4 separate regions of the Homo sapiens genome follow, and regions 1, 3 and 4 are each linked to region 2. Evidence: fine-mapped expression QTL. A gene starts in region 2. Each other region holds a variant in brackets. All regions are shown on one strand. Distances are from middle to middle.

Region 1 (5,526 bases), 160 kb after region 2:
CTGTAAGCCCAGTTACTCAGGAGGTTGAGGTGGGAGGATCATCTGAGCCCGGGGAGGTTAAGGCTGTAGCGAGCCACAAGTGCACCACTGCACTGCAGCCTGGGCGATGGAATAAGACAGTGTCTCAAAACAAACAACAACAAACAAACCAACATCAACAAAACCCACTCTGGTAATTCCATCACTTCTAACATTTTGGTGTCTATCTTTTCAGTCTTCTACATGTGTGGGCTGACTCATGCATATGTGTGTGTGTAAGTTTTTAAGGAAATTGAGATATAATTAACATACAATACAATCAATAAAATAAACATTCTAAGTGTTGAATCTGATGAATTCTAACAACTGTAAAAGTCCGTGTAACCATACCCTGTTCCCCCACCCCCTTAAAGAACATTTCCATCCCTGGAAGAGTTCCCTCCAGTCCCTTCCCAGTCAGTTCCACACCCCATCTCTACTACTATCTGATTTTTAACATAACAGATTAGTTTGTCTGCAGCTGGATTTCATATAATTAGAATCATATAGAATATATTCTCTTTTTGTCTTATTTTTTGGTTAACGTCGTGACCCGGAGAGTCATCATGTTGTTGTGTGTCAGTAGCTTGCTTTGTTCACTTTTATTGTTGCGTAGTACCCTTTTAAGGATATAGCACAACTTGTTTGGGTATCCAGTCTCCTGTTGATGGACATGTTGGTCATGTCCAGTTTGAGCTATTATAAAATAAGGTTGCTATAGATGTTCGTACACAAGACTATGTGAACATGTTTTCAATTCTCTTTCCCCCAGGAGTGGAATTGCTGGGTTATGTGGTAAATGATTAAAGTCTTAGGAAACTGCCATACCTTTTCCTAAAGCGGTTTCATCACTGTACACTCTTACCGCCAATGTGTGAGAATTTTAGTAGCTCTGTATCTTTACCAACATTATTTTTTAAATACTCACATGTGGATTTTGCATGTTGTGGGGGTTTGGTGTACTTATTATTTTATCACCCAGGTAATAAGCATAGTACCCAATAGGTATTTTTCAATCCTCACCCTTTCCCCTCAAGTAGACCCAAGTGTCTATTGTTCCCTTCTTTGTGTTCATCAATGTTTAGCTCCCACTTTCAAGGGAGAACATTCTTCTTTTTTTTTTTGAGATGCAGTGTCAATCTTGTTGCCCAGGCTGGAGTGCAGTGGTGCGATCTTGGCTCACTGCAACCTCTGCCTCCCGAGTTCAAGCAATTCTCCTGCCTTAGCCTCCCAAGTAGCTGTGATTATAGGCATGTGCCACTGTGCCCGGCTAATTTTTGTATTTTTAGTAGAGATGGGGTTTCACTATGTTGGCCAGGTTGGTCTCGAACTCCTGACCTCAAGTGATCTACCCACCTCAGCCTCCCGAAGTGCTGAGATTACAGGCGTGAGCCACCATGCCTGGCAAGTGAGAACATTCTTTACTAACATTTGGTGTTGTCCGTCTTTTTGATTATAGCCATTCTAATGGGTGTGAAGTGGTATTCTGGCTTGATATTCATTTCTATAATGACTGATGTTAAATATCTTTTCAAGGGCTTATTAGACATCTGCATACTACTTCAAAATGTCTGTGTAACTTGTTTTTCAAAATCACTTACCATATTGTGAATACTGCTCCCCGTGTTTGTTTGTTTTTTTGTTTGTTTTTTGTTTTGAGACGGAGCCTCTCTCTGTCGCCCAGGCTGGAGTGCAGTGGCACGATCTTGGCTCACTGCAGCCTCTGCCGCCCAGGTTCAAGTGATTCTCCTGCTTCAGCCTCCCGAGTAGCTGGGATTATAGGTGCCTGCCACCACGCCCAGCTTGTTTTTGTAGTTTTAGTAGAGACAGGGTTTCACTGTCTTGGCCAGGCTGGTCTTGAACTCCTAACCTTGTGATCCACCTGCCTGGGCCTCCCAAAGTGCTGGGATTACAGGTGTGAGCCACCGCACCTAGCCTGAATATTGCCCCCTTTTAGTGATTCTTTAGATAGCTACATAATATTCCTTGTATGAATATACCATAATTTAAGTATTCCTCATTGATGTACAGAGTTAGGTTGTTTGTAAATTTTTTTTGCTATAGGATAAACTCTTCTGTATATAAATCTTTGTGTGCATTATCCTTAGGATAAATTCTAGGAAATAAAATGGTTTCCATATTAGTTTATAATCATCTGCTTGCATATCTGCTCCCCAAAGTAGACTAAGGGTTAGTGAGGGTGAGGACTTCTCCTTATTCATCTTTATACACCAAGGGCATAGCCATTTCCTTAATAAATGATTGCTGAATAAATTTTTGGATAATCTCTTTTTTCTGTTTTATTTTTGAGACAAGAGTCTTGCTCTGCTGTCCATGCTGGAATGCAGTGGCATAATCAGAGCTCACTGCAGTCTTAAATTCCTGGGCTGAAGTGATCCTCCCGCTTCAGCCTCCTGAGTAGCTGTGACTACAGTCATGTGCCACCACTTCTGGCTGATTTTTGTAGTTTCTCTAGAGACAGGGTCTTGAGTGGCCTCAAGTGATCCTTCCGCATTGGCCTCCCAAAGTGCTGGGATTGCAGGCGTAAGCCACTGCGCCC[G/A]GCCTGGATAAACTTTTGATATATATTACTCTAAGTAGAAATTAAAATACCGAAAAAATGTAGAAAACTGTGTATTATTACTATAGAGGAATGGATTCTAAGAATAAGTTAAAGTGATTTTAATGTGATCATGTAATTACTAAACAGAAGTAATTACTGAATTAATAATTATTAATTAGCAATGATACATTAAGGTTAGGAGGGTATATGGTCACAAATAGACATGCCTGAGTGTAGGTGAAGATGCAGCTCTATGGAAAATAGAAAGGCAATATTACCAAGATAAATTACCAAGTGACTGGGAATGGATGTCTTAAATTCTCTGAAGTTGTGACTAGTTTCATGTGCACTTACCTTGCCCGGGGACAAAAGGTCTAGAAAATTGGGGCATGATGGAAAGTGGTGGTCCAGAGGGACGTACAGTTTTCAGGGTGGACAGCTGAGCTGGTGCTGGCGACTGAGCTGGTGAAATAATGGGGCTACTGAGTTGAGGGCTGTGCTGCAATTACAATACGTCAAGAAAATGGGTCAGCATTTTGGGCAGGCTTATTTTTTATTCTTCCTGATTACATATACGTACTTGTTAGAAAATAATTCAAACATTATAGAAGCATGTGATCTGCAACTCCCCAAAATAAACACTGGTAACAGATGGTTTCTTTTTTTTCTTTTTTTTTGAGACGGAGTCTCACTCTGTTGCCCAGGCTGGAGTGCAGTGGCGCAATCACAGCTCACTGCAAGCTCTGCCTCCCAGGTTCACGCCATTCTCCCGCCTCAGCCTCCTGAGCCTCCTGCCTCAGTCCCAGCCTGTAGCTGGGACTACAGGCACCCGCCACCATGCCCAGCTAATTTTTTGTATTTTTAGTAGAGATGAGGTTTCCCTGTGTTAGCCAGGATGTTCTCGATCTCCTGACCTTGTGATCCGCCTGGCTCAGCCTCCCTAAGTGCTGGAATTACAGGCGTGAGCCATCGCACCTGGCCAACAGATTGTTTCTATGCACATGCATTCATACATCCATTTTTCACAAAAATGGGAACAGACTATACATCCTACTTTCAAAACTTGCTTTTGTACCTTGGCAATAATATTGCCGATACTTTTGCATGAGAGAATACATACAGCGAACTCACTCTTTTTTCATATTAAATACTGTAACATTTCATATTTAAATAATTTCATTAGAGAATAGTTCCTAAGATTGTAAAAGAATTCCCAGATTTCCCAAATGATCTTAACTTTTATTACACTGCTTTCTCTGTGTGTGTGTGTGTGTGTGTGTGTGTATACACCCATATATATACATATATATCACTGTGTTTTTTGGAACTGTTTGAAAGTGAATTTCACATGATATTCCTTTAACCCAAAATAATTAGTGTCTATTTCCTAACAACAAGGACTTTTATAATATAATCAAAGTAGAATAAAAGCCAGAAAATTAACAATACAATAGTATTATCTAATCTACAGTTAATTTAAATTTTGCCAAGTGTCCCACTAATGTCCCTTATAGCAAAAGATAAGAAAAATGTTTCCCTTCAAGTCCAGAATCCAGACTAGAATCAAGGGCTGCATTTTGTTGTCATGGCTCTTTAATCTTCTTTAATCTGAAGCAGAACAGCACAGTCTCTTCTTTCTTTCATGACTTTGACATTTCTGAAGATTTGTTTTGGAAGATCAGTTATTTTGTAGACTGTCCCTCAATTTGGGTTTGTCTGCTGTCTCCTCATTAAAAAGTTCATGTTATATATTTGGGAAAGGAACACCAGAGAAGTAATGTGTCCTTCTCAATGGATCACATCAGAAGGAACCTGACGTCTATCTCTCATCACAGTATTGGTGATATTTACTTCGACTGCTTTGTTAACATGGTGCCTATCAGGTTTCTCCACTGTAAATTACAATTTTTTTCCTTTGTAGTTTTAAGTATCTTGTAGGGAGATACTTTAAAAAAAAATTATGCTTTTCCTCAGAATTTCACCCACTAGTTTTGTAGCCTCTAGTGGTGACTCTTGCCTGATGGTTTTCTTGGTGGTGATCTTTTAATTTCACGATTCTACATTTATCACTTTATATTACACTAAGGTAAGACAGTTTCATTTTCCATTTATTGATTTTTATCAGTATGGACTCATGAATTCTTATTTTATTCTATGGATGATCATTCATTTCTATCATTGTTTTATGCCCCAAACCTCCACTCCTGATCCTGTATTCTTCAAGACGTCCCTATTTTTCTTCCATCCCTTCCTTACTTTCTGGCATAGCCAAGATGGCCTACACCCATCTGGTACTTTCCCTGCACCAACTCTGGCAACAGTTATTTTTCTAAGGAGCCCTAGTTCCTTTTAATGGAGACTGGTTATTTACAAACTACCATTTCAATAGTAGGTTTATCTTATTCTTTTCAGTATTACACACTTAAGGGCATTTTCCTAAATGGCACAGTAATAATCAGTTACCCACTGGTGAATGTCAAGACTGTTCACAGTTTTTCAATATTACAACAGGAAAAAAGAAATATTGTACACATATTTTTGCACTTATTATTTAATTTTTACTGGGTAAAGTTCCAGAAGCATATCTGTGGATCAAATTCTACATTTTGAAAAATGTCTCCAAAGTGCATTCCAAAGAGCTGTACCAATTTACACTACCACAAAGAGAGTCCCAGAGCTTATAACTTGATCTTTGCCAAACTATTACTACGGCAGATTATTGGTCTTCCTGAATTTTCCCAATTATATAGATGAAAAGTAGTTTTATATTTTCATCTGTTTAATGGCCATTGGTAGTTTGTGAGCTGATCTGTAATAACCTTTGTTCCCCCTCCTTTTGTTTTTTTTGAGACAGGGTCTCACTCTGTTACCTAGGCTGGAGTACAGTAGTGTGATCACAGCTCACTGCAGCCTCTACCACTCAGGGTCAAGCAATCCTCCTGGTTCAG
Region 2 (5,586 bases):
AAAACAAAAAAAATCAGCCGGGCGTGGCGGTGTGCGCCTGTAGTCCCAGCTACTCAGGAGGCTGAGGCAGAAGAATTGCTTGAACCTGGGAGGCAGAGGCTGCAGTGATCCGAGATCCTGCCACTGCACTCCAGCCTAATGACAGAGCGAGACTCTGTCTCCAAAAAAAAAAGAAAGAAAGAAAGAAAGAAAAGAAAGAAAAAAAAGAAAAAGAAAAAATTTTTCAATAAGTTGGATTTGGTGGTGGCAGGAAATCCCAGCTACTCGGGAGGCGGATGCAGGCAGATTGCTGGAGACCAGGTGTTCAAGGTCAGCCTGCACAACATAGTAAGACCTCGTCTCAAAAAAAGAAAAGAAAGAAAAAATATTTTTAATATGCAACAAGCCTCAAAAAATGGAAGTGGTCCCCGTTTCTCTTAATGTCTTGGAGGCCAAAAAAAGGTACTGGTTGGTGAAATACACATATAGATATCATCAGTACCCAGATGTTAATTAACGCCAAGGGAGTGTAAAGGGTCGCCCAAGAGAGCGACTTTACGGGAAAAGAAGGCTCTGGAACCAGAACATTTAAAAGACTCACTGAAGGAGAGGCGCCTACAAAGGATGCTAATCAGGAATGGCCAAAGAGATGGCAGAAAAACCAAGTGAAATGGTTAGGGAAAGATGGGGGAAAAAAACATAAGGATAACTCAAGCCAATAGTGCATTTTAAGAAGGGTATTAAGGCCGGGCGCTGTGGCTCACGGCCGTAATCCCAGCGCTTTGGGAGGTCGAGGCAGACGGATCACCTGAGGTCAGGAGTTTGAGAGCAGCCTGGCCAACATGGCGAAAACCCTGTCTCTACTAAAAATACAAAAATTGGCTGGGCATGGTAGCGGGCGCCTACAATCCCAGCTATTCAGGAGGCTGAGGCAGGAGAATCCCCTGGACCCGGGAGCTGGAGGTTGCAGTGACCCGAGATCGCGCCACTGCTCTCGAGCCTGAGCGACTGGGTGAGACTTCATCTGAAAAAAAAAAGAAAAGAAAAAGAAAAAAAGATTAATCAAAGTGTCAAATATTTCTTTCTTTTTCTTTTTCTTTCTTTTTTTTTTTTTTTTTTTTGAGACGGAGTCACACTGTGTTGCCCAGGCTGGAGTGCAGTGACACGATCTCGGCCCACTGCAACCTCCTCCTCCCAGGTTCAAGCGATTCTCCTGCCTCGGCCACCCGAGTAGCTGGGATTACAGGCGTGCACCACCACGCCCGACTAATTTTTGTATTTTTAGGGGAGATGGGGTTTCTGCATGTTGGCCAGGGTGGTCTCGAACTCCTGACCTCAGGTGATCCACACGCCTCGGCCTCCCAAAGTGCTAGGATTACAGGTTGTGAGCCACCGCGCCCGGCCAATGTCAAATATTTCGCTGATTTTCCTCGGTCAGCACCACCACAATAATTGTGCCACCTTACCCATGCAAGGTTTAGACATCTCTTTGACTCTTTTACAGGGTTTTATACTGTGGTTTCCATTATTTCCTCTAACTAGACAGCAGAAGCGGCTTACTCATTTTTCTCTTCCATAGAGTCTTACTCCGATCGTTCAATTAATATCAGTGGAATGATTTAAAGAACATTTGAAAAACCACTCGGACAAAACCCTCAGATTCGAACTTGTTCCAGCAGCCAAAAATACCCGCGGGCCACGGCTACACTGCGCAGGCGCAAAGGCAGATGGGCTTTCTCCAGAAGGGCTTTGCATTTGGCGCGAAATCCCTTTCCGTGGGCTGGGGCTCTTGGAGAGGCGCCGTTCATTGGTCAGGTTTGGCGCGAAATCTCCAGCTCCTGTGTCACGATTGGTTCCGGCCGTGCAGGTCGGAAGAGGGGGCGGGGCGGAAGCGGCGGCGGCGCGCGCAAAGCTGCAGCGTCTGGAAAAAAGCGACTTGTGGCGGTCGAGCGTGGCGCAGGCGAATCCTCGGCACTAAGCAAATATGGACCTCGCGGCGGCAGCGGAGCCGGGCGCCGGCAGCCAGCACCTGGAGGTCCGCGACGAGGTGGCCGAGAAGTGCCAGAAACTGTTCCTGGACTTCTTGGAGGAGTAAGTCGGCGAGCGCCCCGGGCCTCGCCCGCCTCCGGAGCCTGCGGCGTCTGGGCCAGGCGGTGCCGTGTGGGCGGCGGGTGTTCCGGAACCTGGGGGTCGCGCGTCCGGGAAGCGCCTCCCCGCCCGCCCCCCAACTTTAGGCTCCGAGCCCGGCGGCCGCGAGGAGCCTGGGACAGGCTGGGTTTTTCTGGAGTAAAACCCATCTCGAGCCCTAAGACGCTCGTGCCCAGTGCTCAGCGCTTTGCTTCTGTCACTTGATGCTCACCACCCCGCGAGCCTGGTATTTGCACAGCCCTCGGTGACCGGCGCGGAAACCTGGGCTCGCTGAGTATAGTAACTGGGCCGCTGGGTGCGGCCAGGTCGAGTGGGAGGCCGAAGTGCCATTGAATCTCGTCGGTGCCCTGCTGGGCCACGCAGCCGGGAGCATGGTGCTGGGGGTTCGCAGGGCACGGGCCACCCTCGCCTCTTGTGCTGATGAAAGTTTCTGCGTCAACTGTGGTTTGAAAGCTGCTGGGGGGCGGAGCCCTGCCCTGCAGAGAGTAGCTCACCATATCCCTTCTTCTGGGTCCCTTGCTCCCCTTTCCCTCTGGCCTTCCTTTCCTTTCTCTACTCTTCTTTTTTTCTGTGCCTCTGGGCTCCTAGCTTCATAACCCCAACCTCCTCCCTGGCTTGCCTCACCCACCGGTTATTTTTCCTGGAGCAGATACACCACGGCCTCCAGGATGAAGGGTCAGCAGTTTGGAATGGCTTTTGAAGTTCTTTTTTAGTAAAATATACATAACAAAGTTGACCATTTTAGCCATTTTTAAGTGTAGAGTCCAGTGGCACTAAGTGCATTCACCTCGTTGTGCAGCCGTCACCACTCTCCCATCTCCAAACTTTTTTTTTTTTGAGGCGTAATTTAGCCCTTGTTGCCCAGGCCGGAGTGCAGTGTCACCATCTCAGCTCACCGCAACCTCCGTCTCCCGGGTTCAAGCTATTCTCCTGCCTCAGCCTCCCTACTAGCTGGAATTACAGGCATGCGCCACCACGCCCGGCTAATTTGGTATTTTAGTAGAGATGGGGTTTCTCCATGTTGGTCAGGCTGGTCTTGAACTCCCGACCTCAGGTGATCCCCCCGCCTGGGCTTCCCAAAGTGATTACAGGCGTGAGCCACCGTGTCCGGCTCCAAACTCTTTTCATCTTCCAAACTGACATTCTGTGCCCATTAAACACGAACTCTCCTCCGTTACCCTCTCCCTCAGCCACCGTCACCCACCACTCTGCTTCCTTTCATTATGAGTTTGACCACTCTAGGTACCTCATATAAGTGGAAGCGTGTAGTATTTGTCCTTTTGTGTCTGGCTTGTGTAACATAATGTCTACAAGGTTCCTCTGCGAGGTAGCATGTGTCAGAATTTCCTTACTTTTTAAGGCTAAATAACATTGTCTGTACACATTGAGTATCCCTTTTCTGAAACGCTTGGGACCAGAAGAGTTTGGGATCTTGGATTTTTTTTTCAGATTTGGAATGTTTACATTATACTTAACCAATTGCATCCCTAATTTGAAATGCTCCAGTGAAAATCATGTCAGCACTCAAAAAGTTTCAGATTTTGGACCATTTCATATTTTAAATTTTCAGATGAGGGCTGCTCAACCTGTATATATACTGCATTTTGCTTATCCATTCAGTGGACACAGGTTCATTCCACCTTTTGTCTATTGTGAATAATGAGGTTCATTCCACCTTTTGGCTATTGTGAATAATGCTGCCTTCTTAGGAAATTTTGGTATACTTAAAACCATAATTTAATTTCCATTTCACTACCTATGGCAATGTTATTGTCTGCCTGATAGTTCCTCCTTCAAAGCCCAGCTAAAAACTCACACCTTTGTGAAACCTTGTACACCTTTTTGAGAGGCACTAATCCTTTCTTCCTTAGGCTCCCAGGGTGCTGTTTGTTTTTCATTATCTCTGGCAGTGTAACACATTTACCTCCTAGCTACTTAGTCTGGAATTCAAATTCCATCCTCAACCCCACCTACCCACCACATCACATTACAAAGGTTTTTCAATAAACGTTTCATTTCAACAAATAATCTAAGTGCCTTGACTTTGCAGCTAGATGATAATGATGAGACAAATAATCTCTGTGCTTTGTTTAAAGAAATGCCAACTCCCTGTCACAAAATAAACTTTAATTCACCATTGCTTGTGGAATAAAGTTCAAATTCTTCATCACTCCTCTTTCCTGTTTGTCTTACAAAAACACCCCAGTCATCATCCACACTTCTCCCCTACCTTCTCTGACTTAATCACATTCTTGGAATCATCTAGTCAGTCACTTCACCACCTGTTTTTATTTGAAATTTTTAACTCTTTCAGAAGCTGAATTCCAACGCCACCTTTTATATGTATAACTTGTAGTTGTTTTTTTAGGCAGAATTAGTTTCTATTCCCCTAGCACATTTCTTGTTCTTCTCATTAACAGGAACATCTTTCTTGTCTGTCTTCATTGCTTACATGTCTAACTCCCTAGACGCAGACAAAGTGTTAGTTAACCCTAGGGCAGGAACAACACTGCCATTTTCAGCCTCAGGTACCTCTGTTATAGGGCTTTGCACGTAGTTGTTTAACAAATATTTTAAGGAGTCAGAACATGCTGTATATGGAGGAGAAATTGATTTTTTCTTAAGGCGAATCTGCATATTATGTTTGAAAGAACAGAAATAAATTTGTATGATATCCTGCTTGGGCTTTAGAAGCAAAAATACCAGCAGCTTTATTTAGTGTGCCTGTTTCAATTTTCCCGAAGTCTTGGGCTGTGAAACACCTCATTTCCATGTATTCTTATTTCTGTTCTGCTTCTTAAATCCCTGACTAATTTGTTAGTTTGCAAATTCCCTACAGAAATGGAATCATTGGGTTTGAGACTGAATTTCTTGATTTAACATTTTCCAATCTTAATTATACATGACAGTAGTAAAAGAAGAGTTAGTTGTTGGGTTTTTTTGTTAGTTAGCAGTTAAACCTCACAATCATGGTGGAAGGCAAGGAGGAGCAAGTCACTGATGTCTTACGTGGATGGCATCAGGCAAAGAGAGCTTGTGCAGAGGAACTCCTCTTTTTAAAACCATCAGATCTCGTGAGACTTACTATCAGAGAACAGCAGGGGAAAGACTTGTCCCCATGCTTCAATTAACTCCCACCAGGTGCCTCCCACAACATGTGGAAATTCAAGTCGAGATTTGGGTGGGGACACAGCCAAACCATATCAGAAGGGAGGAGTAACTTGCCCCAAGTTACAGAACTGCCAAACATGGGCCTGTCTGAGCCTAGTTGTTGGACTTTAACCAATGTTCTGAATTATCATTCAGGTTCTTTGTACTGCCTGTGTCCTTAATCTAGTTGACTCGAATGTACCTGCAGGTTTCAGAGCAGCGATGGAGAAATTAAATACTTGCAATTAGCAGAGGAACTGATTCGTCCTGAGAGAAACACATTGGTTGTGAGTTTTGTGGACCTGGAAC
Region 3 (5,646 bases), 59 kb after region 2:
ATATACATGCACATAAACATGTATGTGTATGAGGTTAAAAGCACAGAATCTGCTCCACCACCTGCAAGCTGTGTGCAAGGAGAAGTTACTCATAATCACCAGGAATCCAGGCTCCTTTGTTGTTGCTTTGTCACCTTTAACAAGGTTTCTACCTCATGGTTCAGGATGGATGCTTGAGCTCCTGCCATTATGTCAGAAATCCAAGCAGCATGAAGAAAGGAAGCAGTAGCCAGGACTGATATTCAACTGGTCCACATCAGTGTACTTCTGTACCAGCTGATAAATAGCTGCTGGCTCCCTGAAATCAGGAAGTTTTCCATTTCTTTTTCTTTTTTTAGACGGAGTTTCACTCTTGTTGCCCAGGCTGGAGTGCAATGGCGTGATCTCAGCTCACCACAACCTCTGCCTCCCGGGTTCAAGTGATTCTCCTGCTTCAGCCTCCTGAGTAGCTGGGATTACAGGCCCCCACCACCACGCCTGGCTAATTTTGTATTTTTAGTAGAGACGGGGTTTCCCCATGTTGGTCAGTCTGGTCTCGAACTTCTGACCTCGTGATCCACCTGCCTCGGCCTCCCAAAGTGCTGGGATTACAGGCATGAGCCACCACACCCAGCCCCCGTTTCTTTTAGTCTCAGTTTCCTCCTGTGTAGGATGAGGATAAATCATTGTAGTACCCATCTCATAAATTTGTTGGGAAAATTAAATGAGATAATACACATCCATTCTTATTACAGTGGCCAGCGCAGAATCAAGGCTCAATAAATTGGAGTCATTGTTATTATTAGCTATGTTTTACAAATAATGAATTATAAGAAGAATAAAGTATGGTACTAACACTGAAGACAATATTCAAGGGCAATCTAATACAGAGAACAGTAGCATTGTTCCTGTTTTAACCATGAAAGAGCAAGAATCACTCACCTCAGAAGGGGTAATAATAATAATTTTCCCATCTGCCAGTTACTTCCTGCCCATGGCTTTGCAGATATGACTTTTGACTCAGTGTTTCTGGAATCTTTTCTGATTAAACACAGTAGTCATCCGTAGGGGGCATTTGTAACTGCCAGCGTCATTCATTATTATGTCCCTTTTTGTCCCTTCAATCCTGCAGCATGTCTTGTTCTCTGACTGGCAGCCTGGCCCTTCAGCCTGACCAGCAGCAGGACCACGAGACCACGGACTCCTCTCCTGCCTCTGCCTATCAGAGAATCTGGGAAGCATTTGCCAATCAGTCCAGGGCGGAAAGGGATGCCTTCCTGCAGGATACTTTCCCTGAAGGCTTCCTCTGGGGTGCCTCCACAGGAGCCTTTAACGTGGAAGGAGGCTGGGCCGAGGGTGGGAGAGGGGTGAGCATCTGGGATCCACGCAGGCCCCTGAACACCACTGAGGGCCAAGCGACGCTGGAGGTGGCCAGCGACAGTTACCACAAGGTAGCCTCTGACGTCGCCCTGCTTTGCGGCCTCCGGGCTCAGGTGTACAAGTTCTCCATCTCCTGGTCCCGGATCTTCCCCATGGGGCACGGGAGCAGCCCCAGCCTCCCAGGCGTTGCCTACTACAACAAGCTGATTGACAGGCTACAGGATGCGGGCATCGAGCCCATGGCCACGCTGTTCCACTGGGACCTGCCTCAGGCCCTGCAGGATCATGGTGGATGGCAGAATGAGAGCGTGGTGGATGCCTTCCTGGACTATGCGGCCTTCTGCTTCTCCACATTTGGGGACCGTGTGAAGCTGTGGGTGACCTTCCATGAGCCGTGGGTGATGAGCTACGCAGGCTATGGCACCGGCCAGCACCCTCCCGGCATCTCTGACCCAGGAGTGGCCTCTTTTAAGGTACTTCCCAACCCTGCAGCTCCTACTAATTGGAGGAGAAAGGACATTGGCTGGAAGAAAGTCATTTTCTCTGTTTTCTTCCATCAGCAAGCCTTTACTTTTTGTTCTTTCTTTAAAGGAAATCGGGGAGGGAAGGAACCATAAATTGTTAATTAAATTGTTAATCACCTGGCCAGGTGCAGTGGCTCATGCCAGTAATCTCTTCACTGTGGGAGGCCAAGGCAGGCAGATTTCTTGAGTCCAGGAGTTCGAGACCAGACTGGGCAACATGGCGAAATCTTGTCTCTGCAAAAAAAATACAAAAATTAGCTGGGCATAGTGTTGCACGCCTGTGATCCCACCTACCCAGGAGACTGAGGTGGGAGGATCGCTTGAGCCTGGTATGCAGAGGCTGCAGTGAGCCAAGATTTTGCCACTGCACTCCAGCCTGGTCAACAGAGCAAGACCCTGTCTCAAAAAAAAAAAAAAATTGTTAATCACCTTATTTTGTCCAGACCCTCTACTGGTACTTTTAAAATATAATAGTTATTACATACTCAGAATAGCACTGATGGATGAGTGAGGCTCAGACAGGATAAACAATGTGGTCATGATGACATTGCTAGTGAGTAGCCAGGTGGAAGTCAGGATTTGAGTCCGAGTCTTCTTGACTCCAAATCAAGTTCCTCATGTCAGTGACAAGTGACAGAAAGCTCAACCCAAAGTGACTTAAGCAAGGAGAGAATTTACACATTCAGGAGGTTGAAAATTCTTCATTTAGCCTGATCAGGGTGGAATTTGATCAGAGCACAAGCGATGCCACCAGGACCCAGTTCCTCTCCTGTTCCCCTCGTTGGCTTTATTCTTGGGCTACTTTGCAGCCAGATGGCAGCAGCCCTGTTTCTGTTATTTCATGACCAGTAGGGAAAAAAGCTCGGCTCTTTTCTGTCCTTCCCAACAGAAGTGTCCCTGTGTCTCATGGTCTCTCAGTGGGTCGCATACCCACCCTGAACTCATTGCTGGGTCCTGGCCAGGAGGCTGTGACAACTGACTGGTGTGGGCCAAGGACCCATGCTTTACTCCTCAATACGCTCACTGAGAGCTGAGGAGGCAGAGAGGGAAGAGGCAAGGAGGCATTGGCTTTCCAGACGCCAGTCAGGGCATCGTTTCAACAAGAAGGGGATGTATACACTTGGCACAAAATTTTAAATGGCTATAGGTCTTTTCCATTATTTCCCTTTTTCTTCGGAATCTCCCAGAAAACCCACCAGCTTTCTTTGGCAGCGTTCTTCAGGATGGACA[T/C]GTTAGTCTGCCTTTTCCCTGTCACTGTTTGGGTTCCATTCTTAAAGATGAGTATTTCCGGCCGGGCATGGTGGCTCACGCCTGTAATCCCAGCACTTTGGGAGGCCAAGGCAGGCAGATCACCTGGGAGGTCAGGAGTTCAAGACCAGCCTGGCCAACATGGTGAAATCCTGTCTCTACTAAAATACAAAAATTAGCCAGATATGTTGGTGGGTGCCTGTAATCCCATCTACTTGGGAGGCTGAGGCAAGAGAATCACTTCATCCTGGGAGGCGGAGGTTGTAGTGAGCCGAGATTATGCCACTGCACTCCAGCCTGGGCAGCCTGGGTGACAAAGCGAGACTTTCATCTCAAAAATAATAATAATAATAATAATACTATTTCCTGTGTCCCGTGCTAGGTGTTAAAGAGGGGTCACAGCCATGCCCTGGACATGTTATAACCTTTTGGGGAAGATGACACTAACACACGTAGCAAAATTACAGAACTCTTCAAAAAGACCATTACTAGGGTGAGCTGGAACATCATGAATAAATAACTCAATGAAATGTCAAACATTGTAGCACGTAAGTCAGAGTTTCCATTCAGCTCTTGAGCAGCAAGTGACTGCACATATGGAGCCATTCCACCACCCACCTTCTGAAAATGGAAGGTTTGAAATCTTCTGTTTCACTCCTTGTTGTAAAACTTATCTAAACCTTTTCTTCTTAGGCTTTTCTTCCCCTTTGAACTGTGGCTCTTGAGATATCTTTACAGAGACTTTGATGAGAAAGTCCCCTTCACTCTTCTCCTTCAATTCTTCCCTTTATTTATTAGTTCAATGTTAGAATGCCATTGTCTTAGTGAGCTTGAGCTGCAATAACAAAACACCATAGACTGGTGGTTTAAACAACAGATATTTATTTCCCAGCATTCTGGAGCTGGGGAAGTCCAAGATCAAGGGACCAGCATGTTTGGGTTCTGGTGAGGGCTCTCTTCCTGGCCTGCAGGCAGCCACCTTCTTGCTGTCCTCATATAGGGGTGGTTGGAAGAACTCACTGGTATCTTTTCTTATAAGGACACTAATACCACCACCATGAGAGTCCCACCCTCACGACCTCCTCTAAATCTAATCACCCCTCAAAGGCCCTATCTCCAAATACCATCACATTGGGGATTAGGGCTTCAACATATGAATTTTGATGGGGGAACTAATTCAGTTCATAGCAACTATTAAGGAAAAAATTTAAAGAAAAAAATGTCTTGGGCCAGGCGCGGTGGCTCACACCTGTAATCTCAGCACTTTGGGAGGCCGAGGCGGGCGGATCACGAGATCAGGGGTTCGAGACCAGCCTGGCCAACATAGTGAAACCCTGTCTCTACTAAAAATACAAAAATTAGCCAGGCATGGTGGCGGGCACCTGTAGTCCCAGCTACTCTGGAGGATGAGGCAGGAAAATCGCTTGAACCTAGGAGGTAGAGGTTGTGGTGAGCCGAGATTGCGCCACTGCACTCCAGCCTGGTGACAGAGCGAGACTCCATCTCAAAAAAAAAAAAAAGGTATTTTATTATTTTAGAGTATTTCCTTCCAGTCTTGGCTTCTTTGCATTTATGATGTTGTCACAGGGCACCTCAGATTGTTGCTCACTGTTTACTTGATATCATGTCATTAGCACTTTTCCCTATTATTAAGCAGTTGTGATGACTGTTTTTGATGGTTGTCTAATATTCCACTGAGCTCCCTTCCTGACACTGGCTAATTTAGAAGAAAGACATCCTTGCTTTTGGGAAAGGAGCACAGTTTGCCATTCGAGTTTAGAACTCAACTAAAGACGAATATTTGGGATGTGAGAAGCAGCCAGGCGTTTTAGTGATTATGGCATATTTTGACATGAAATTCTTCAGAGGTAAGTGTCATCCTCTTCAGATGATAAAAAGGAAAAAGGAAAGCAAGCTAAGATTTAGCAAGCTCACTCCTGCTCTCTGAGTTTCTGCTCAATGCTTTATATACACGTATTTAATCATCCCAGATGGATCCATAATTACCCACTTCTTGCCAACAAGTAAGCTGAAGTTGAGAGAATAAATTGTCCAAGTTAACAAGTTAGTAACAGAGTCAAGATTTAAATCTAGGCTTGTTATATTTCAGACACCCTCCTTTTGCCCCTACTTCCCACAAAAAGCTGTTGCTGTTTGTAAGAGCATGAGTTAAGTCTACAAAGAAACTCCTAGTTTGGTTTTTCTTCCGAGATTCCATTAAATAGAAAGAAGAACAAATAAGCAAGAAAGAGCCCTCCTCTCCCTTGTGTGCTAATTAAAATAATCCTCCCCATGGACTAATTTCTCAAAAAGCACTTATTAAGGACAGAGGCAGAATAGCAGTGTGGGTAACAGTAACAGGCTTGGAATCAGACTGCCAGGGGCTTGTTCTCACTTTACTCCTGACTCTTGGCCTTGTGAAGTTACTACACAGCTCTGGATCTTGTTTTCACCATCTCTATAGTGGTGATAATAATTGTACCTGCCATATGAGGTTGTGGTGAGGATTACATGA
Region 4 (5,646 bases), 40 kb after region 2:
GGCGTGATTGACCATGCCCAGCCTGTATATAAGGATATTCATTTGCAGCATTGTTTGCAACACAAAAATGTAAAACCAACCGGTGTTTAATATGCAAGATGTTAATTTATGGTACATTCTTGCTGTGGAAAGCTATGCATCTGTTAGAGGTGGGTCTATATGTTCTGATACAGGCAGAACTCTAAGAGCTATTAAGTGAAGAAAAGGCTGAAAATACATATGGCATAATTCCATATATGTTAAATTGTTCTATATTTTAAATGTTATACACGTTTCCATTTGTATTTACGTAATAATAATGATCCCTGAGCTGTACTGTTGTATACATGCTACAAGAAAGACCCATTTAATCCCCACAGCCTATGATGAATTATCCACATTCTACAGGTGACAAAATAGAGGCACAAAGTTAAGTAATTTTTGTCAGGTGAGATTTAAACCCAGGCATTCTGACTCCTGTATAACCATTAAGATATGCAGAGAAAGAAAACTGGAAAGATACATATTGCTGAAGATACTTATTATAGGAAGAGGAGGGGGGAGGGTGAAGGAATTTGCAAGTTTTTCATAGATGTTTCCATATTGTTTGAATCTCTTACAAAATATGTTCAGCATATTTTTAAAGAGAAAATTTGGGGCAAAATACTTATTTTTGTATTATGTAAACAAATTTTAAAATAATGTGTGGCTGGGTGCGCTGGCTCACACCTGTAATCCCAACACTTTAGGAGGCTGAGGCAAGAGGATTGCTTGAGCCCAGGAGTTCAAGACCAGCCTGGGTGACATGGCAAAACTCCATCTCTACTAAAAATACAAAAAATTAGCCAGTCGTGGTGGCGCACACCTATGGTCCCACCTACCCAGGATGCTGAGATGGGAGGATCACTTGAGCCCAGGAAGTCAAGGCTGCAGGAAGCTGTGATCGCACCACTGCACTCCCACCTGGGCAACAGAGTGAGACCCGGTCACCAAAAAACAAAAAAAACAAAAAAAATTGGTAATCGTTTTCTTCAGACATTTTCCGGGTTCCTCTGCTTAACTTGTATAGGAAGTCTGAGGTTTTTGTGTTGGTCTTTACCTTTTTTTTTTTTTTTTTTTTTTAAGATGGAGTCTCATTCTGTTGCCCAGGCTGGAGTGCAGTGGCATGATCTTGGCTCCTGCAACCTCCGCCTCCTGGGTTCAAGTGATTCTCCTGCCTCAGCCTCCTGAGTAGCCGGGACTACAGGCGCATGCCACGATGCCTGGCTAATTTTTTGTATTTTTAGTAGAGATGGGGTTTCACCATGTTAGCTAGGACGGTCTCGATCTCCTGACCTCGTGATCCGCCCACCTCGGCCTCCCAAAGTGCTGGAATTACAGGTGTGAGCCACCACGCCCGGCCCTGATCTTTACATTTTTAAATATTGCATTAGTGAACCGTGTACTGATTTTGTGATCATAGATAACCCAGTTAAATATTAAGTCTTAATTATCACTTAGTATTTTACAACCTCAGTTGCAGTTATAAAGTAAGGGTTCCACATACCTCCTAACAGTTCCTAGAAAATGGAGCTGTCTTGGCATGTAGTCTTTATTGCCCTGCTAAGTTTTTCATGCTGGGGGTCAGACTGGGAGTCTGATAGAAATTTCATTTCCACCGCTGGTCCTCTAACCAATGACTTGCTGCACAACCTGAGTGGTCTCCTGGGAGACCAGAGTTCTAACTTTGTAGCAGGGGACAAAGACATGTATGTTTGTCACCAGCCACTGCCCACTTTCCTGCCAGAATACTTCAGCAGTCTCCATGCCAGTCAGATCACCCATTATAAGGTATTTCTGTCATGGGCACAGCTCCTCCCAGCAGGAAGCACCCAGAATCCAGACGAGAAAACAGTGCAGTGCTACCGGCGACTCCTCAAGGCCCTCAAGACTGCACGGCTTCAGCCCATGGTCATCCTGCACCACCAGACCCTCCCTGCCAGCACCCTCCGGAGAACCGAAGCCTTTGCTGACCTCTTCGCCGACTATGCCACATTCGCCTTCCACTCCTTCGGGGACCTAGTTGGGATCTGGTTCACCTTCAGTGACTTGGAGGAAGTGATCAAGGAGCTTCCCCACCAGGAATCAAGAGCGTCACAACTCCAGACCCTCAGTGATGCCCACAGAAAAGCCTATGAGATTTACCACGAAAGCTATGCTTTTCAGGGTGAGTACACATTGACCTGATGGTGACCCCTCGGCAACCTTCATCACACACCTTCCCCATCCTCCTTAGAGCAGATTCGACATTTCTCCCAACTCACCTTCAGCAGTCCTCTTATGTCTGTGCATAGGGAGAAATTAATATTGTAAATTGATTTCCCACTGGCGATAGGAAGGGGTAGCTAACATGGCAAAACACTCAGCATTTCCTTTGAAAAATATCTTTGAGGCTCACGCCTGTAATCCTAGCACTTTGGGAGGCCGAGGTGGGCGGATCACTTGAAGTCAGGAGTTCGAGACCAGCCTGGCCAATATGGCAAAACCCCGTCTCTACTAAAAATAC[C/A]AAAATTAGCCAGGGATGGTAGCAGGCGCCTGTGATCCCAGCTACTCGGGAGGCTTAGGCAGGAGAATTGCTTGAACCCAGGAGGCAGATGTTGCAGTGAGCCGAAATCATGCCACTGTACTACAGCCTGTGCGACAGAGCAAGACACAATCTCAAAAAAAAAAAATATGTATACATATATATATATATATATATATATATATATATATATATACACACATGTATTTTTGAAATACCCCTTGCCCAGTCTTGAGTTGTGCAAGCACTGATTGTCTTTCTGTCTTCCTTTCCGTCTATGTCCTGCTACCCTGACTTGGAGGCAAAGTTTCGTGGTTTCCTGTCCTTCCCCCTCGGCTCCCCTATACTTACATGTCTTAGTTGGAGCTTACATTGCAGCTTGGGAGACAGACAAATACAAGATGAAACAATTATATATCACAGGATGAGGAGAGCACAACTGTAACTGTTCACATTCCTGCCTCCTAGGGGACTTGAAGTTCTGATCTGTAGGCCTAGGCTGAACCAGGACATTTGTGATTATAATCAATTCCCTAAGTGTATGTTAGGTACACCAATTTTGAGAATCAATTTTGGATTATATATGCTTTCTTGTTTTTATTATATACCATATACATACATATTTGTATATATAGTACCTGATATATATATATATATATATATATATATATATATATATATATATATATACTTCTATGTTCTACTTTTTCATTTTAACATAGTTTATGACTATATTCTCATTTTATTAAAAACTTGAGCCAGGCATGGTGGCTCATGCCTATAATCCCAGCACGTTAGGAGGCCAAGGCAGGGGGATTGCTTGAGGCCAGGAGTTGGAGACCAGCCTGGGCAACATAGAGAGCCACTATCTCTAAAATAATATAATAATTTACTCCAGTGCTGGAATAGTATTGCTTAAAACAAAAGAAAAACTTGAAAGCATAACTTTCAATGGTCTTTTAGGTTCCCATTGTATAAATGGAGCATAAAGTTTAAGGTATTTTCCTTATTTTTGTATGTTTATTCTAATTTTCACTAGTTACAAGTTATGTTGCAATGACATTCCTATCTATAAACTATTTCCCACCTTCTGATAAATTCTTTCTGACAGAATCTTAGAATTGAAACTACTAGGTGAAAAGATCTGCATTCTTTAAGATTTTAAAGCATGGTACTAAATTATTTTCCAGAAAAGTTGTAATCATTTATACGAACAGTTATAAAATTACTCTCTGACCCCATTCTGTCAGTTTCAAATGCTATATTTTATTACTAATTTGACAGCTGAAAACAGCTTATTTTCATGTCTTGTTAATTTGCATGTATTTGATTATAGAGACGTTAAACATTTTTTTCTTCTTCTTTTTTTTTTTTTTTTTTTTTTTGAGATGGAGTCTCACTCTTTTGTCCAGGCTGGAGTGCAGTGGTGTGATCTCGGCTCACTGCAACCTCTGCCTCCCGAGTTCAAGCAATTCTCCTGCCTCAGCCTTCCCAGTAGCTGGGATTACAGGCACGCACCACCACATCTGGCTAATTTTTGTATTTTTAGTAGAGATGGGGTTTCACCGTGTTGGCCAGGCTGGACTCAAACTTCTGATCTCAGGTGATCCGCCCGCCTCGGACTCCCAAAATGCTGGGATTACAGGCGTGAGCCACCACGCCCGGCCTTAAACAAAAAAATAAAATAAGGCCAGGCGTGGTGGTTCACGCTTGTAATCCCAGCACTTTGGGAGGCTGAGGCAGGCGGGTCACAAGGTCAGAAGATCGAGACCATCCTGGCTAACACGGTGAAACCCCATCTCTACTAAAAATACAAAAAATTAGCGAGGCGTGGTAGCACGTGTCTGTAGTCCCAGCTACTCAGGAGGCTGAGGCAGGAGAATCGCTTGAACCTGGGAGGCGGAGGTTGCAGTGAGCCGAGACTGCGCCATTGCACTCCAGCCTGGGCGACAGAGCGAGACTCTGTCTCAAAAATAAATGAAAAATAAACTAGGACATCATAGCTGCCTTATTCACAATAGCCAAAAGGTGGAAGCAACCCAGATATCCACTGATGGATGAATGGATAAACGAGACGTGGCATAGACATAAAATGGAATATTACTCCACATTTATTAAAAAGGGAAGAAATCATCACATGCTACAACATGGATGAACCTTGAGGACATTATGCTATGTGAAATAAGCCAGACACAAAAAGACAAACGCTGTATGATTCCATGTATAGGAGGAAACTAGAGCAGTCGAATTCATGGAGAGAGGAAGGAGAATGGCAGAGGCCAGGGGCTGGGGTAGGGGAGAAATGGAGAGCTCTTTAATGGGAGTAGAATTTCTGTTCAGAAAAATGAAAAAGTTCTGGAGATTGGTTGCACAACAATGTGAATATACTTAATAATACTGAACTGTGCACTTAAAAATAGTTAAGATGGCCGGGCGCGGTGGCTCACGCCTGTAATCCCAACACTTTGGGAGGCCAAGGCGGGCAGATCATGAGGTCAGGAGATCGAGACCATCCTGGCTAACCCGGTGCAACTCCGTCTCTACCAAAAATGCAAAAAATTAGCCGGGCGTGGTGGCGGGCCCCTGTAGTCCCAGCTACTCGGGAGGCTGAGGCAGGAGAATGGCGTGAACGCGGGAGGCGGAGCTTTCAGTGAGCCGAGATGGCACGACTGCACTCCAGCCTGGGCGACGGAGCGAGACTCCGTCTCAAAAAAAAAAAAAAAAAAAAAAAGAAGTTTAGGAAGGAGTTCTCTCCTTGCCAACTCTCCAACTGCTCTGCATTTCATAGTCCTGATTTTCACAAAACACTCTCTAAAGGAACATTATTTTTTTAAGCCACCTTGTCTTCTAAAATCTTTCAGCTAGAGTAAAGTCATTTGGATGATTTCTTCAGGTCCATAGGAAATGAATCCCCCAGTGGTTTCCACAGTCAGAGCCTCCTGCCCTCGCTCACCTGCTGTTCGTGTCTCTGGTTGGTTTCAGGCGGAAAACTCTCTGTTGTCCTGCGAGCTGAAGATATCCCGGAGCTCCTGCTAGAACCACCCATATCTGCGCTTGCCCAGGTGACAGCAGCCCAAAAATATACCTGTAACATCTGAGGAGAG

The links. PIP is the estimated chance that this variant, and not a neighbour inherited with it, causes the effect.
Region 1: its variant is the best candidate, but not a certain one, in a credible set for the expression of MCM6 in whole blood (TOPMed, PIP 0.64).
Region 3: its variant is the best candidate, but not a certain one, in a credible set for the expression of MCM6 in thyroid (GTEx, PIP 0.86).
Region 4: its variant is the best candidate, but not a certain one, in a credible set for the expression of MCM6 in whole blood (TOPMed, PIP 0.69).

Annotation. Positions count from the first base shown.
Region 1 is chr2:135,713,101-135,718,626 of GRCh38, reverse strand. It overlaps R3HDM1 (R3H domain containing 1), which reads right to left. Exons shown (of 27, transcript NM_001378107.1): 24 at 2,933-3,077. Among named protein-coding and RNA genes, the nearest start is that of UBXN4, 26 kb to the left of the region's middle. The variant G/A (reference allele first, on the strand shown) is at 2,579.
Region 2 is chr2:135,872,743-135,878,328 of GRCh38, reverse strand. MCM6 (minichromosome maintenance complex component 6) reads left to right here and starts at 1,886. Exons shown (of 17, transcript NM_005915.6): 1 at 1,886-2,070; 2 at 5,486-5,586. The coding sequence starts at 1,964. RefSeq lists enhancers at 1,612-1,671, 2,362-2,491, 2,261-2,796 and a silencer at 2,132-2,291.
Region 3 is chr2:135,813,527-135,819,172 of GRCh38, reverse strand. It overlaps LCT (lactase), which reads left to right. Exons shown (of 17, transcript NM_002299.4): 6 at 1,112-1,832. Among named protein-coding and RNA genes, the nearest start is that of LCT-AS1, 3.8 kb to the left of the region's middle. RefSeq lists an enhancer at 584-1,783. The variant T/C (reference allele first, on the strand shown) is at 3,114.
Region 4 is chr2:135,833,069-135,838,714 of GRCh38, reverse strand. LCT (lactase) reads left to right here and starts at 1,531. Exons shown (of 17, transcript NM_002299.4): 1 at 1,531-2,185; 2 at 5,525-5,604. The coding sequence starts at 1,546. The variant C/A (reference allele first, on the strand shown) is at 2,525.